4 linked regions of the Homo sapiens genome follow. The protein of the gene in region 2 interacts with the protein of the main gene of each other region in a pairwise test. Each region holds a gene or a part of one and is shown on either strand. Other genes may lie near its edges.

The links.
Region 1: the proteins of ROR2 (region 2) and TPTE interact in a two-hybrid assay, tested with the Homo sapiens proteins (one study listed by BioGRID and IntAct).
Region 3: the proteins of ROR2 (region 2) and DUSP14 interact in a two-hybrid assay, tested with the Homo sapiens proteins (one study listed by BioGRID and IntAct).
Region 4: the proteins of ROR2 (region 2) and ALG13 interact in binary tests that used the Homo sapiens proteins (3 or more experiments, as listed by UniProt).

What each region holds. Positions count from the first base shown.
Region 1 is NC_000021.9:10,524,583-10,528,082, reverse strand, and holds part of TPTE (putative tyrosine-protein phosphatase TPTE), read right to left. Parts: 5' UTR 3,395-3,500; intron 729-3,394; 5' UTR 671-728; intron 1-670.
Region 2 is NC_000009.12:91,754,729-91,758,228, forward strand, and holds part of ROR2 (tyrosine-protein kinase transmembrane receptor ROR2 isoform 1 precursor), read right to left. Parts: intron 2,832-3,500; coding exon 2,544-2,831; intron 1,374-2,543; coding exon 1,343-1,373; intron 1-1,342. UniProt on the Homo sapiens protein: Tyrosine-protein kinase receptor which may be involved in the early formation of the chondrocytes. It seems to be required for cartilage and growth plate development. Phosphorylates YWHAB, leading to induction of osteogenesis and bone formation.
Region 3 is NC_000017.11:37,506,891-37,510,390, reverse strand, and holds part of DUSP14 (dual specificity protein phosphatase 14), read right to left. Parts: intron 1-3,500. UniProt on the Homo sapiens protein: Involved in the inactivation of MAP kinases. Dephosphorylates ERK, JNK and p38 MAP-kinases. Plays a negative role in TCR signaling by dephosphorylating MAP3K7 adapter TAB1 leading to its inactivation.
Region 4 is NC_000023.11:111,708,670-111,712,169, reverse strand, and holds part of ALG13 (UDP-N-acetylglucosamine transferase subunit ALG13), read right to left. Parts: intron 3,206-3,500; coding exon 3,122-3,205; intron 496-3,121; coding exon 445-495; intron 1-444. UniProt on the Homo sapiens protein: Catalytic subunit of the UDP-N-acetylglucosamine transferase complex that operates in the biosynthetic pathway of dolichol-linked oligosaccharides, the glycan precursors employed in protein asparagine (N)-glycosylation.

The sequences.
Region 1 (3,500 bases), on a different chromosome or scaffold from region 2:
GTTGGTAATAAAAATTGTTTAGGACTCTCAAAAAAGTTTAATGAATCAAGATTTAAATACAATTATTACTGAACCTGATCATCATGTGTGGCAGCAAATTTAACTTAAATTTCCTTCAAATTCATGTCCCATTTGTAGGCACACATTATTCTTGCCCATTTTGATTTCCTAATTATCAAGTCCCTCCACCACCTTCATGCTCTTCATGAGTCACAGATATCTTTGCTTCTCCTCAAATAGGATCAAGTGACTAAACCTGAGGCAGGGGCTCCATCCAATGTGATGATGGCTTTGAGTTTGGGGCACCAGCTCTGAAGGGTGAGGGACAGATACAGGGTCTCTTAGCTCCTTTCTTGCTGCTGAGGGCTCCTCTGCTGCCTGTCCAATGCTACCACCTTCTTTCTCCAAGTAGGATTCTCTCCTCTCTTGGACCACTCTTGAAGAGAGTCTCATACACAGGCATTCTGATAGTTTCCTAAGGTTTTGGCTGCTAATTACTTAGAGTCACAAACAATCTTTGAGTACCAAGCATCCTTCTTCTGACCTGATCTTATTTTTTCCACTCTGGTTCAAAAACAATGTTACCAAAGATGCTTAAAGTCTCTGATAGAAAGCTGTTATTGCCATTGATGCTCCCAGTATTTTTCACCACTTAGATCAGTCAACTCACCCATTGTGGTCATAGTTGTCAAGAGCATACAGTAGAATCTGGTAGTGAATCCATAACTCTACCAAAGAGTAAAAAGCACATACAAAAAATAAAGTCAGATATTTTGGAAGGCAATGAGGATGTTAATCTCAACAGTATTTCAGGACACAAAAAATAAAATCGGAGGAATTTTGACAAGAACTAAAGAAACAATTTCAGGATACAGCACTAGTACTTCTGAGACTGTGTGTGTGTGTGTGTCTGTGTGTGTGTGTGAGAGAGAGAGAGAGAGAGAGAGAGGGGACACAGAAAAAAGAAAGAAAATGTAAGAATAATGAATGTTTCTATATCAATGGCTAGTTCCCGGTCATCCTTGGTAGGAAATAAACAAGTAGATAAGTCAAGCCTTAATTATGTTTAAAACATTTTGTGAACTTAAAGTGGATTATGTGTTTACAATGATTTTGTTTTCTCTTTGTCTGGATTCATTTTTTTAAAGTTATATGGCTATGTTTTACAATATCAAGACTTCCTAGCACCGAAACCCCTGGCTTGGCTAATTTAATCTCTCTGCTACTTCATTTCCTCATCTGTAAGTTAAGACACATGCAAAATACACTCCACATCTGTCAACTTCATAAAACCATGCTGAATATTCAGCATTTTGCCAATATTGGTTTTTAGACAACCTGCTCTCTACACCATATATTATGCCATAAAAATCAGTATGTGGCAATATAAACGGATACACATTTTTAGTTTCAAATACACAAACATTCTCATCAAGGTAATACACTCCCAAGACTCAAGAATTAATGCTCTTCACCACAATTTTCTAACTTTTCAAACGTTTAAATAAGTTTAAGAAACTGATCACATACATTTTTTTGCTGCTGATAACAACTGGGATTCTCTAAGAGTGTGCTGAGGTTTCTTAACCTATTTGACCACAGAACCTCTTTCTCACAGTGGAAATGTGTGAGAAACACATTTTGGAAACAATATATTAAATGGTATCTTTTTATGTCTTTAAGAAAAGTTCCCCTACACAAACTAATTTTGGACTCTGATCAATAGCTCCAACCTTTAAGCACAGATAGACATTAATATTGTGCTAGTCTTTCAGCCTGTGAGGAAAGGAGTGCCAGAGTTCAAATTATCGCATCTCGTTAGCCTGGTCTGAGGGCCATGAGGGGAACCTTTCAAGTTCTAAGTGGGTGTTCTCATGTCCTTGAATGGCTCCTGGAAATTCATCCAGGTCTCAGGAAAAACAATAACCTTTTACAAAAAGAAAGGCATCTATAGGCATCCGCTACTTTTCAGCAGGATGAATAATTGGATTGTCTATGCAGAATACACTAATAAATCATAACAGGGGAAAATGTTCAAAACACCAAAAAGGTAAGAATTTGAGTTTCTGACATAAGCAGCCTTATTAAATGATTACTAGATTTTTCAGACATCCTCTACTGAGGAAGAGAACTGGAAGACACTCAAATTACTCCAGATTCAGGTGACAAGCCAGGATTGCTAAGCAAGTTCCTTGGGAAACTAATCTCCAAAAAGGGCACGAGACATCCATAGATGTTACCTGAACTCCAGGGAGAGTACTGCATGAAGTCTGAAATAATACTTTGATAAGCTGCTTTGGGGCACAGAATGACTTCCCTCATGGGACATGAATAAGTAACTAGCTAAATTGCCCCCTAAGGAAGGTGAGAATTGCAAACCGTCCTAAACTGAAGTGGTCATGCAGAATTCTTAAATGCTTTTTGGTAGATAGGAGCAACCACAGAAGTTTGAGTTAGCTGAAGGTTAGCTACACCTTTATAATCATGCTACCAGGTTATAATGAAAAGTAGGTCTCCGACCAAATCTGCCACACATACAGATATTCATTTAACAAAACATTCAGTAGCAAGCAGACACAGTATATAAGCTTCTGTAAGCTTTCCGCACTTTAGGTACTCCAAGCATGAAAGCTTCATTCTCAACAGATTCCTAATGTTTCAGAGGCCAAAATCTTCCTAAACGTTCCTGGAGATAGGACCATATGAGGATCAAGCCTTGGGTGTCGTCTCTAAATATACACTACAGGCCACCCTCATACACCTTTATCCTGTTTATGCAAGGGTGGGCTGTCTCCAAAACACGTTAGTTGATTCACAGATCTTAAAATGTCATATAATTGTAACATCCATCATGCTGCTTTGTAAGCCGCCAATTTCACTAATAAAAACCCATTTGTGACCTTCACTGTAATAATTAACAATGTTTCAGGTGTTAATTGAGATGGGACCACTGAAGCCCTTTTGGTGGCCATCTCTGTGGAGTGGCTTCCTGAGCTGAACACTAGCTTACCATCCTTGAACAGAGCATCCAACATTAGGGCAACCAGCTGCCCCTGTAGGAAAGATTAAAGTGACCAGTATATGCATATTATCACACTGCCTAAAATGTCATAGAATGAGGCTTGGTTTGTTTTTTAAATTTTTTCTATTTCTATTATTTTTCTATCGAATTATTTTTCTATTTTTATTTGCTGGGTCACAGACAACAGCAAATTCCATACCTTCAGAGTTATACCAGCTCATCTGCAGTAGGAGTAGAAATATCAAAGCTCTCAGTCTACCACCTTGTGCTCCAGAGATGTGGCCCAAGCACATCTTTGGACGTGAACCAGGGCAACCCAAGGCAGAGCTGGATTTCTGGGAGTTTCTCCCTATAAGCCCTGGACATGCTTACCTATACACCAGACTGCTTCCAGAGCCACTGCCGGGCAGAAGAGCCTGGGGTGTGTTCAGCTGCTAGAATAACACAAGTCTGAGGTCTTGTGTCGTCGGTCCAACAT
Region 2 (3,500 bases):
TTATATGCCTTTTTCCAAAGCCCCATAATTGTGCTCATGATGCAATTTCTTCTTTCCTTACTCTGTGTCTGAAGGACTATTAAGGAAAAATGCTCCATCACTATTGCTCAGCACAGAATCTTCCCAAATATCTTCCCTCTAGGTCAGGTGTGGTGGCACACACCTACAATCCCAGTGATTTGGGAGGGCGAGACAGGAGGATTGCTCGAGGCAAGAGTTTGTCACCAGTCTGGACAGCATAGTGAGACCCCATCTCTACAAAAAATAAGAAAAAATTATCCGGGTGTGTGGTGGCACGCACCTGCAGTCCCAGCTACTTGGGAGGCTGAAGGGGGAGGATGGCCTGAGCCCAGGAGTACAAGACTACAGTAAGCTGTGATCGTGCCACTGCACTCCAGTCTGGGTGAAAAGCCAGGCCTGTCTATTTGGGGGGGGAAAAAAATCTGCCCTCTGCAAGCAAGCTGCTGATGTCTGCTGAGACAGGTCGCTGCCCTGCCCAGCCTCCCAACGTGGTGTTGCAGCACATCATGGGTGGGTAATGGGTACAAGGCCCAGGGAAACAGAAATCAGCCAACACTGCACACTTTACCAACCATATAGTGTTCATGCTATTGTTCAGAACATCTCAAAGTGAAGCACTGCTCTCCAATATGTCTGAGGAGGAAATGCAGGAAACCCGGACAGTCACTGCTCATCTCAAACACCGGCAATGGAATGAGCACTCCTCTGGGTACACGATGGGAGAGTGTGGGCAGTTCAGAGGGGACTCTCCCAAGACAGCCTGGCCACAGTGGAATAACCTCGTACTGGGAAACCAGAGGCCTGAGTTCAAAGCCACTGCTGTCAGCAGCTCGTGAAGGAGTGTGAGCCTGGCTGTGAGCCTCGGTCTCCTCATCTGCAAGGTGGGGTTGAGACTCCCACCCACTGCCACGGGGTGGCCCAAGGCTCAGGGGCACACATTTATTAACTGCAGCTGGTAGTGCTGGGATTTCAGAGTGAATTACGTCCCTGTTTCCCAATGTCCTAATGAGCCGGTATCCTTCCTGGTGCCCAGGCAACCTGGCCTGTATATTTATACTCCTCTCAGTAGCCCTGTGTAAGGTCACAATCACAGAAAGAAATTAACCATTTTTGTTTTTCTGACTTTTTTTCTGTACAAGAAACATGAAAAATGTAAATGTTTCCCAACCCTAAGCAAGCACGTGGCCACCCCTGTGTGAAGCCCAGCCAACTTCTAGCAAATTCGGCAAAGACATGAGCTGGCAGGATTTAAACCCCGGATTCCTACATAACAAAAACCCTCAGAGCAGCAGAACACGGCTTGGGGAAAACAGATACTTACTGAAAGTTATGATTTGGGCTGTGCGTTGGACCTAAAAAGAGGAAACAAAAAGACAAGTTATTAATACTCCATGATTTGGAATACAACCTTCTTCAAATCAGGCCAGTGGCAAACAGGCTGAAGCCAGCGGGCTCACTGGTGGGCAGCTGTCCTCGGGCCTCAGGCTCCACTCGTGATTACGTCAGCAAGGCTGGAAACCACACACAAGGGAAGGGGTGCTTTGTCACTGAGGATATCTTTGTTTTTGGAGTTTTTGCTGTCCTTACTCTCTCTCTTCTCATCTAGTCTTTACACACAAAATCTGTTTTACTACTTATGATCGGATGGCGTGGGCTTCGGTGGCAGGGCCGGGGCGTTTGCTGCCTGGGAGTTTTTCACAGGTGGGATGAAGGGGGACACAGTCCTTCCTGCCACTTAATTCCTTCACCAGGTGTGACGAGCACAGAGACTCAGAATCTCTGGTCATCGCACTCAGCTCTCTCCCCACCCCAGCCAGGTCAGCCTCGGGCCCTACCTAGCCGTCCTGCAGTGTGGCCACTCTCCCACTGACACCTGACCTCCTAACAAACAGCCTTCCTGCTAAACACCTCAGCTCCTCGTGTGTGCCTGGGATTGTCTTCTGGGCTCCAGGTCCATAAACCTCTCCATCTGCACCTATTTTCTTTTTGTTCTCTTTTTTTTTTTTTTTTTTTTTTTTGAGACAGAGTTTCACTCTTGTCACCCATGCTGGAATGCAATGGCGTGATCTCGGCTCACTGCAACCTCCACCTCCCAGGTTCAAGCGATTCTCCTGCCTCAGCCTCCTGAGTAGCTGGGATTACAGGCGCCCGCCACCATGCCAGGCTAATTTTGTATTTTTAGTAGAGATGGAGTTTCTACTAAACTGGCCAACTACTACCATGTTGGCTAGGCTGATCTCAAACTCCTGACCTCAGGTGATCCGCCCACCTCGGCCTCCCAAAGTGCTGGAATTACAGGCGTGAGCCACCGTGCCTCGCCCTATTTTCTCTTATTACTAGTAAATGGGTAACAGGTCAAGCTGGGCCCTGGGGCACATGGGGAAGGCCCTAGGGAACGGTTTCATTGCTCTCCCCTCGTGCTGACTGGTGTGTGTTCAGTTTCAAATAGCAACTGGACCTCTTGCTCGGTGGCTGGGAACCTTCATATCTGCTAACCCACACAATTTCACTGTCCAACTCACCCAGCCGCACAAACAGGACGCCAGTGGCGGTAATGGTCTTCATCCCGTTGGTGGCCACGCACTGGTAGTAGCCAGTGTCTGTCGTGTCCAGGTCCTGGATTCGCAGTCGTGAACCATATTCTGTCTTCCGGATGATGATCCGCCGCGGCTCCTGCACCACCGGGGCATCATTCTTTAGCCACCGCACGTTAGGGGGTGGGTTTCCTGCCACCTTGCAGTGCAGAATTGCCGTCTGGCCTTGGACAATGGTGATATTGTTTACTGGCTCCAGAAAATTCAGAAAGTAACCTGCCAAGGAGAGCGGTCACAAAAGAGCAAGCGTCAGTGAGGGCTGGAAGGAAGGGCTACCTGGGGGCTCTGCTATGAACTCTTCCAAGGGAAGGTTTCGATTTTTGTCACCTACTAAAATAGGTTGTTATCTGCGGTAATTATCTTCTAGAAAGCTACAGGGAACACTGAATTAGTGAATACTGAACCACTGCTCCTATGGGAAATACAGAGTCAAATTCCTGTGAGCCTCTCGTCATAATACTTTCACCAACCAACCAATACATAACCTTGGTTTATGTGTGTTTCTGTTTAAAGACACCATATTCAATGTGTACTGTTGATTCCTTCACATTGAACCCATGGCCAACAGCCTCATAACTCATGCCTGAACGAAGCTTCTCTCACACACATTTTTTTCTCCATAAGGCATGTCGCAGCTTTCTTGCACTTAGGAACACCAGACCACTTCAGTGCTGTGCCTGGGGGCCATCATAAACAATAAAATCACCAACAAAAAGCCCAAATATGCAAGAAACTTGGCACTAAATAGACCAAGAAAAGGCCACATGTTCACAATATGAGGGCAGAAACCAGGGAGCAGACCATCGCCTTGTTTAGCCCCAGCTGGGACACAAATTTTTCACTGCCGTGGGCGTGTGTCTGTGAAAGGCCACAAAAGCACCGTAA
Region 3 (3,500 bases), on a different chromosome or scaffold from region 2:
ATCCGCGAAATGTCCGGCACTGCTGCCTCCTCGGTGGGCTATGAGGACACAACACGGACTCGAGTCTCTTCCATGCACCGTTAGCCAGCCCTGCAGTGGGAAGGCCTGGGCGGCACCGCGGTGGGAGGACGGACAGGCCAGGTGCAGCAAGGGTGAGCCAAGCAGCCCTGTGCCTGAACACAAGGTGGAGGACAGTGTGCACCAGGAAGCTAAGGACAGGCATGGCCGGGACATGGCACGGAGGACGGCTTCATGAGGAGCAGGACCGCAGATGTGGCTGCAGCCAGGAACGCTAATTACAGGCGGTGCTGGTGTTCAGGATGGCAATTTGACATTTTCCTTCATTTTGTTTTCTTTTCCATGTTGGCCCTATTTTATTCATTTATGTTATGTAAGTACCATGAACATCATAAAAAATGTGTTCTTCTACCACCTGTTCCCCCACCTTTCCCAGGTAACTGTCAGACCTGTCGTGTTTTTTTTACAGCTCTGTTGAGGTGTTCTTGACATATAAACTGCTATACAACTTGATCAGGTACATTACCTGATGAGTTCTGACATATGTACACAATGGAGACACCAGTACATCATAATAATAAACACATCCATCATCCCCCTCAAAATTTCCTCATTTTTTTTAATAATCCAACCCTTTCTTGCTCTTTACCCCATTCCCAGGCAACCACTGATCTTTCTTATCACTATGGTTTGCACTCTAGACTTTTCTATCAATGGACTTTTATATATTTATAGCATATAAATATATATAGGCCAAGCGTGGTGGATCACGCCTGTAATCCCAACACTTTGGGAGGCCGAGGCGGGTGGATCACTTGAGGCCAGGAGTTCGAGACCAGCCTTGCCAATGTGGAGAAACCCAGGTCTCTACTAAAAATACCAAAATTATCCGGGCATGATGGCACACACCTGTAATCCCAGCTACTTGGGTGGCTGAGGCAGGAGAATCACTAGAACCCAGGAGGAGGTGGAGGTTGCAGTGGAGCCGAAATTGCACCACTGCACTCCAGCCTGGGCAACAGAGCAAGACTCTGTCTCAAAAACTAAACACACACACACACACACACACACACACTATATATATATATATATATATATATATATATATATATATATATATATATATATAGTGTGTATATAGTGTGTATATATAGTGTATATATACATATATAGTACACATATACATAGTACATATATATATAGAGTGTGTGTGTGTGTGTGTGTGTGTGTGTGTGTGTGTGTGTATATATATATATATATATATATATGGGTTTTTTTTTTTTTTGGTCTGGCTTCTTTCACTCTGCATAACTTAGACATTCACCCATGACGCTGGGTTATCAACAGCTCACTTCTTAAGTACTCTGCTGTGTAGATACACCACACTCTGTTTATCCATTCACCTACTGATGAACCTGGGTTGTCTCTAGTTTAAAGGTATTGTGAGTACAGCTGCTATGAGCATCCACGTACAGGTCTTTGTGCGTACATATGCCTTCCTCTCTCAGTTCAATACCCAGGAGTGAAGGGCTGGGTCCTATGACACGTATGTTTAACATTTTAAAATGGTTTTTGAAAAAAAAAGTTTATAAATATACATATATATTTATTTATACATACATATATATATATATATATTGAGATGGAGTCTGGCTCTGTCACCCAGGCTGGAGTGCAGTGGCGCAATCTCAGCTCACTGCAACCTCCACCTCCCAGGTTCAAGAGATTCTCCTGCCTCAGCCTCCTGAGTAGCTGGGATTACAGGCGTGCACCACCACACGTTGCTATTTTTTGTACTTTAAGTAGAGACGGAGTTTTGCCACATTGGCCAGGCTGGTCTCAAACTCCTGACCTCAAGTGATCCACCCACCTTGGCCTCCCAAGGTGCTGGGATTACAGGCATGAGCCACTGTGCCTGGCTCCATTTACAACTATTTCTATCATTATAATGCAGGGGCTCTCAAACCTGAGCATGCCTCAGAATCCCCCAGAGGGCTGTGCGCACAGACTGCTGGACCTTTCCCCAGCTTCTGATTCCGTCCCTCCAGAGTGGGGCTGGAAGAGTTGCCTTTCTGAGGTGAGGCTGCGGGTCGGGGGCACGTCTGAGAACTGCTGCAGAGGTGAGTGCTGTGGCTCTGTCTGCATTCCCCCTGGAAGACTGAGGCACCAGGTGTACTGGTGCTAACAGACCACAAGTCCCTCCTGGACACTGCCCTTCTCTGAAGGGAGCTGCCTCCTCACTCGAGGCTAGGCCTCGCTTTGGGAGCCCACATCCCATGACTGGTTAATGCTATGGGAGTACACAGAGCAGTCCACAGGTGAAATCACAGCATGAGGAGGAACAAGGACGCAGTCACATAAGGAAACTGCGTGTGTGTGCATTGGATGTAAACTATGAACAGGGCAGAAACTCTGAGAACATCCTTTCCTACAGCAGAGCAGGGTCTCCTGCCACTTCCAAGTCTTCCCTGGCAGAATCCTACTGGTTTAAAAAGCAAAGTCACTGTGGTAATAAACACAAAATTAGGCCTTCAAGCTGCTGGGGATGACGCTCCTCATTGTGGAAAATCTGGAAGATGCTAATCAAATTTCCAAGTAGGTTATCTAGTTGTTGTCTAATTCAGAGAGGCTTGGCCATAGACACGGTGGCTTACGCCTATAATCCCAGCACTTTGGGAGGCCGAGGCGGGCAGATCACCTGAGACCAGCCTGGGCAACATGGTGAAACCCCGTCTCTACTAAAAATACAAAAATTAGCCAGGTGCAGTGGTGCATGCCTATAATCCCAGCTAGTAGGGAGGCTGAGCCAAGAGAATCGCTTGAACCCGGGAGGAAGAGGCTGCAGTGAGCTGAGATCGCGCCATTGCACTCCAGCCTGGGTGGCAGAGCGATGCATCCTCCCAAATTACGCTGTCTGGGAAGCCACTTGCCTTCCTGAGGCAAAGGAGCCCAGGTTCCCTGTAGAAGCCGGGCTGATTCCGTTAACTCGCATTTGCTGAGTGGCGCTAGGGTACTTGGTGCTGCAGGGAAAACAGATTGTGAGCCCTCGGGGCAGAATCCAAGTGAGACAGACACATTGCTCCCTCCCTGCTGCTGCCAGTCCATCTCTTTGCCAACAAACCTGCTTAAAATGCCAAAGCTGGTCCAAAGTTTCAGGAAAACAACTTCCGCCAGAGGGCACGTAGAGGGCACAGATGCTATAGATGCTTCTCTGACAAACACTCCTGACCCCCTTGACAGATTGGAAAATACATGGTTCAGAAAGGGTGAGAGATTTCAACTTGAGAAGTGAAACTAGGAAAAGATGGAAGGTGTCCGGATTTCTAGCTCAAGTCCACACACTGCTTCTCTGCGGTGACTAAATCGTGGCTGTGTTCTCATCACCTGCCTCGCGGCGCTCCACACCACCAGCCAGCGTCTGCCACACACGCGGGGGGGTGTGGATCTGCCTAAGAAGGTGTTTCAGTGCTACTTACAGAAAG
Region 4 (3,500 bases), on a different chromosome or scaffold from region 2:
GTCCAGAACTATGGAATTAACTTTATCACATAAAAATTATTTCTAAATAAAGCATGAATTTATGAATTTTACTCCCACATAAGAGGAAGACAACTACAAATCAGGGGAATTGTTTAATAACAAAATAATGACCTCTTGGTAAAATTCATTACCACCCTCCTCCCCCGTTAAAGTGAAAAGGCTTAAGCTTGTCCTGTTTCCAAGTAGTGTATACTCTTTTGCTAGTCTATGGTTGATGGGATTAACACACAATTATCAATATTCAACACAAAACAATTGGTCAATTGCCAGCCTCTAAACTTATGTGAGAACTATTGGATTCAACACAGCTGGCTACTAAATAAAATATTTGGGGTCTGGCTAAAATAATACAGTTGAATGAATAAATTTACATTACTATTCCAAATAACTCTGAAAAGATTAAACCCCCATATTTGATCTTACCTTGGGATCTCCCAACCGTTCCAGGTATTTCTCAAAAGATCCCTCCACATACTTCAAAAATAAAACAAACTCAACTTAACCAAATACACAGCATTACTGAAATCTGATTATATTCTACATTATCCTGCAATGCGTTTTTTGCTCAGCTCAACAATTATGGTGTAAGTATCTACTTTGCACAGCACCTCAAGAAGATTTGCACATACACAAAAGTCATGAGTGGAGAAAAGCTGGAGTATAAAAGTATCTTAGGAATTGGTCCTGGCATATCCACATACCAGTGCATTTCATCAAATGGTATGCTTTCGAGTTTCATTTGAAATGCCAATTTAAGTAATGACAATTTTCATAAATCAAGCAAGACCAGTATTTCTAAGGATTTCAAATTTGACAAAACATGCATTTACAAAATTAAACTGAGGAACTTTAAAGAGAATTTCATTAGTTTCTAAAAAGACCATGGGACAAGCGAACCTTTTAGGGGTGACGGAAACATTCTATATCTTGACTGCAGTGGTAGTTCCATGATTGCATATCATCTCCAAAACTAAAAATGGTAAACTTAAAATGACGAGTTTTATTGAATGTAAAATATGCCTCAATAAAAATGAAATTAAACTCAGGGACTGTAATAGATTTATTTCTAGTTCCATGGATACATATCACTAGACTTTTAAAAAATCATTTAAATTTTCCTTTTAAAAAGTTTTGAGATATAAATGACATACAGGCTGGGTGTTGTGGCTCACGCCTGTAATCCCAGCACTTTGGGAGGCCGAGGCAGGCAGATCATGAGGTCAGGAGATCGAGACCATCCTGGCGAACATGGTGAAACCCCATCTCTACTAAAAATACAAAAAAATTAGCCAGACATGGTGGCGGGCACCTGTAGTCCCAGCTACTTGGGAGGCTGAGGCAGGAGAATGGCATGAACCCAGGAGGCGGAGCTTACAGTGAGCCGAGATCGTGCCACTGCACTCCAGCCTGGGTGAAAGAGCAAGACTCCATCTCAAAAAATAAATAAATGACATACAATAAACTGCACAATTTAAATAGTACAAATTTTGACTTATGTATACACCCATGAAATCATCATCACAATTGAGATGGTGAATGTATCACTTCCGTAAGTACCCTTGTGCCCCTCTATAACTGACATATAACCACTGATCTGCTTTCTGTCACTACAGATTGGCTTGTATTTTTTCTAGAGTTTTATATAAGGGAAATCAAACAGTATAAACTTTGCATGGGGTCTGGTTTCTATCACTCAGTACTGAATTGAGATTCATTTACGTAGTTTTAAAATTTTACACACATCTTTGTTACTCAAAATGTTGTCCACAAACCAATAGCAAGCATTACTTCAGTTCGTTAAAAATGCAGAAATCTCCACTGCACGCAGTGGCTCACACTTGTAGTCCCAGCACTTTGGGAGGCCAAGGCGGGCAGATCACTTGAGCCCAGGAGTCTGAGACCAGTCTGGGCAACATGGCGAAACCCCATCTCTACTAAAAACACAAAAAACTTAGCCCAGTGAGGTGGCGTGTGCCTGTAGTCCCAAGTTACTTTGGAGGCTGAGGTGGGAGGATTGCTTCAGCCTCGTAGGCAGAGGCTGCAGCGAGCCGTGATCCTGCCACTGCACTCCAGCCTGGGCAACAGAGAAGACCCTGTCTCAAGGTAAGAAAAAAAAAAAAAGAAATCTCGGGCCCCAACTCAGACCTACTGAATGAAAACCTGTATTTTAACAAGATCTCCAGGTGATTTGTATGCACAGAAATACTTGAGACGCACTGCTTTACACTATGGCCTTGCATTTGAAGTAATGTTACTAATAATCCTTTCCCCAGGTGTAGAGAAGACTACAATGAACTTCAAGGTAACAAGCTTTTAAGTCAAGAAGTCTTCACATAGTTTTAAAATTCACTGAAACCAGTTGAGAAAATTAGGAGTAAAACTCGAACAGCAGGCGAATACCCACAATAAACAGAAGAAACAAATAGCACTGCAAGGGCCAGAAGTGTTTAAAAAAAAAAAAAAGAAAAGGAAGCCTCCAATTTCATTAACAAGAATTCAAATACATGAAGGTGTACAAATATGTCTTCTGTAAGTTGTTTTACCTAAAGTTAATCATTAGTGGCAGAGCTCTAATTATACAATTTGTGACATGGAAAGACTAGATACTTAGACTCATTTGTTCCCTTACAATTAAGTTTTACAAGATTCCTCAAATTGACTGGCTGAAGATTATTGTACACAGGATTAAGCAAGAAAATAGAGGGGGTTCCCATTTTTACGTATTTTAAAATATGCATTGCAAAATATTAACAGAGCCAAACCTTTCATGAACTATTATTAATTGTTCAATAAAACTGTATGGATAATATAAAACAGCAATCAAAACATAACTTTTTAGGGTCTGGAGTTCTTGGCGTAGGACGAGGTAAGTAGTGGGAAAATGTAGATTATTCTTGATTTTTAATTAGAGTCCTAAACAACCTAATTCTAGCAGAGGCTCAAGAAGCATGTTAGCTACTGGGAAGGGAGCCAGTTGGGAATTATATATTTGCTATTGAGGAGACAGCATGATATAGTTTAATTTTGGTAGGTGCTCACAATTATTTTTCCACCTGCTACACACTCTACCAGTTCTCCCCTGGGTATGTATTCTACTTACAGACTCAAAAGTTTGTTGATTTTCCCTCATATATGAGACACAAGCCTTCCTGATTTCCAAATGATGGACCTGGCTGCAAAACAACTAAAAAGAAGAGAAAGACCAGCCCACTGTCAGTAGTCATTTAAAATAGGCACTTCTAAATCAAGACTATGAACTGGACACTTAAGGCTTCCTTATTCAGAACATATGTAGGAAATTGGGAAATTAAATCATCTTACTAAAAGTTTTTTTAATATCATCTTCAACGAAATGGGGGAAGGATGACTGTCATGCCCCATCCCCTTTTCTACTCCTTATGTGCACAGCCTATAATTTTTTTCTTAGGCATTAAAATTAGAGGAAGCAGGGGATGCTTACAAAGGATCAAGATATATTT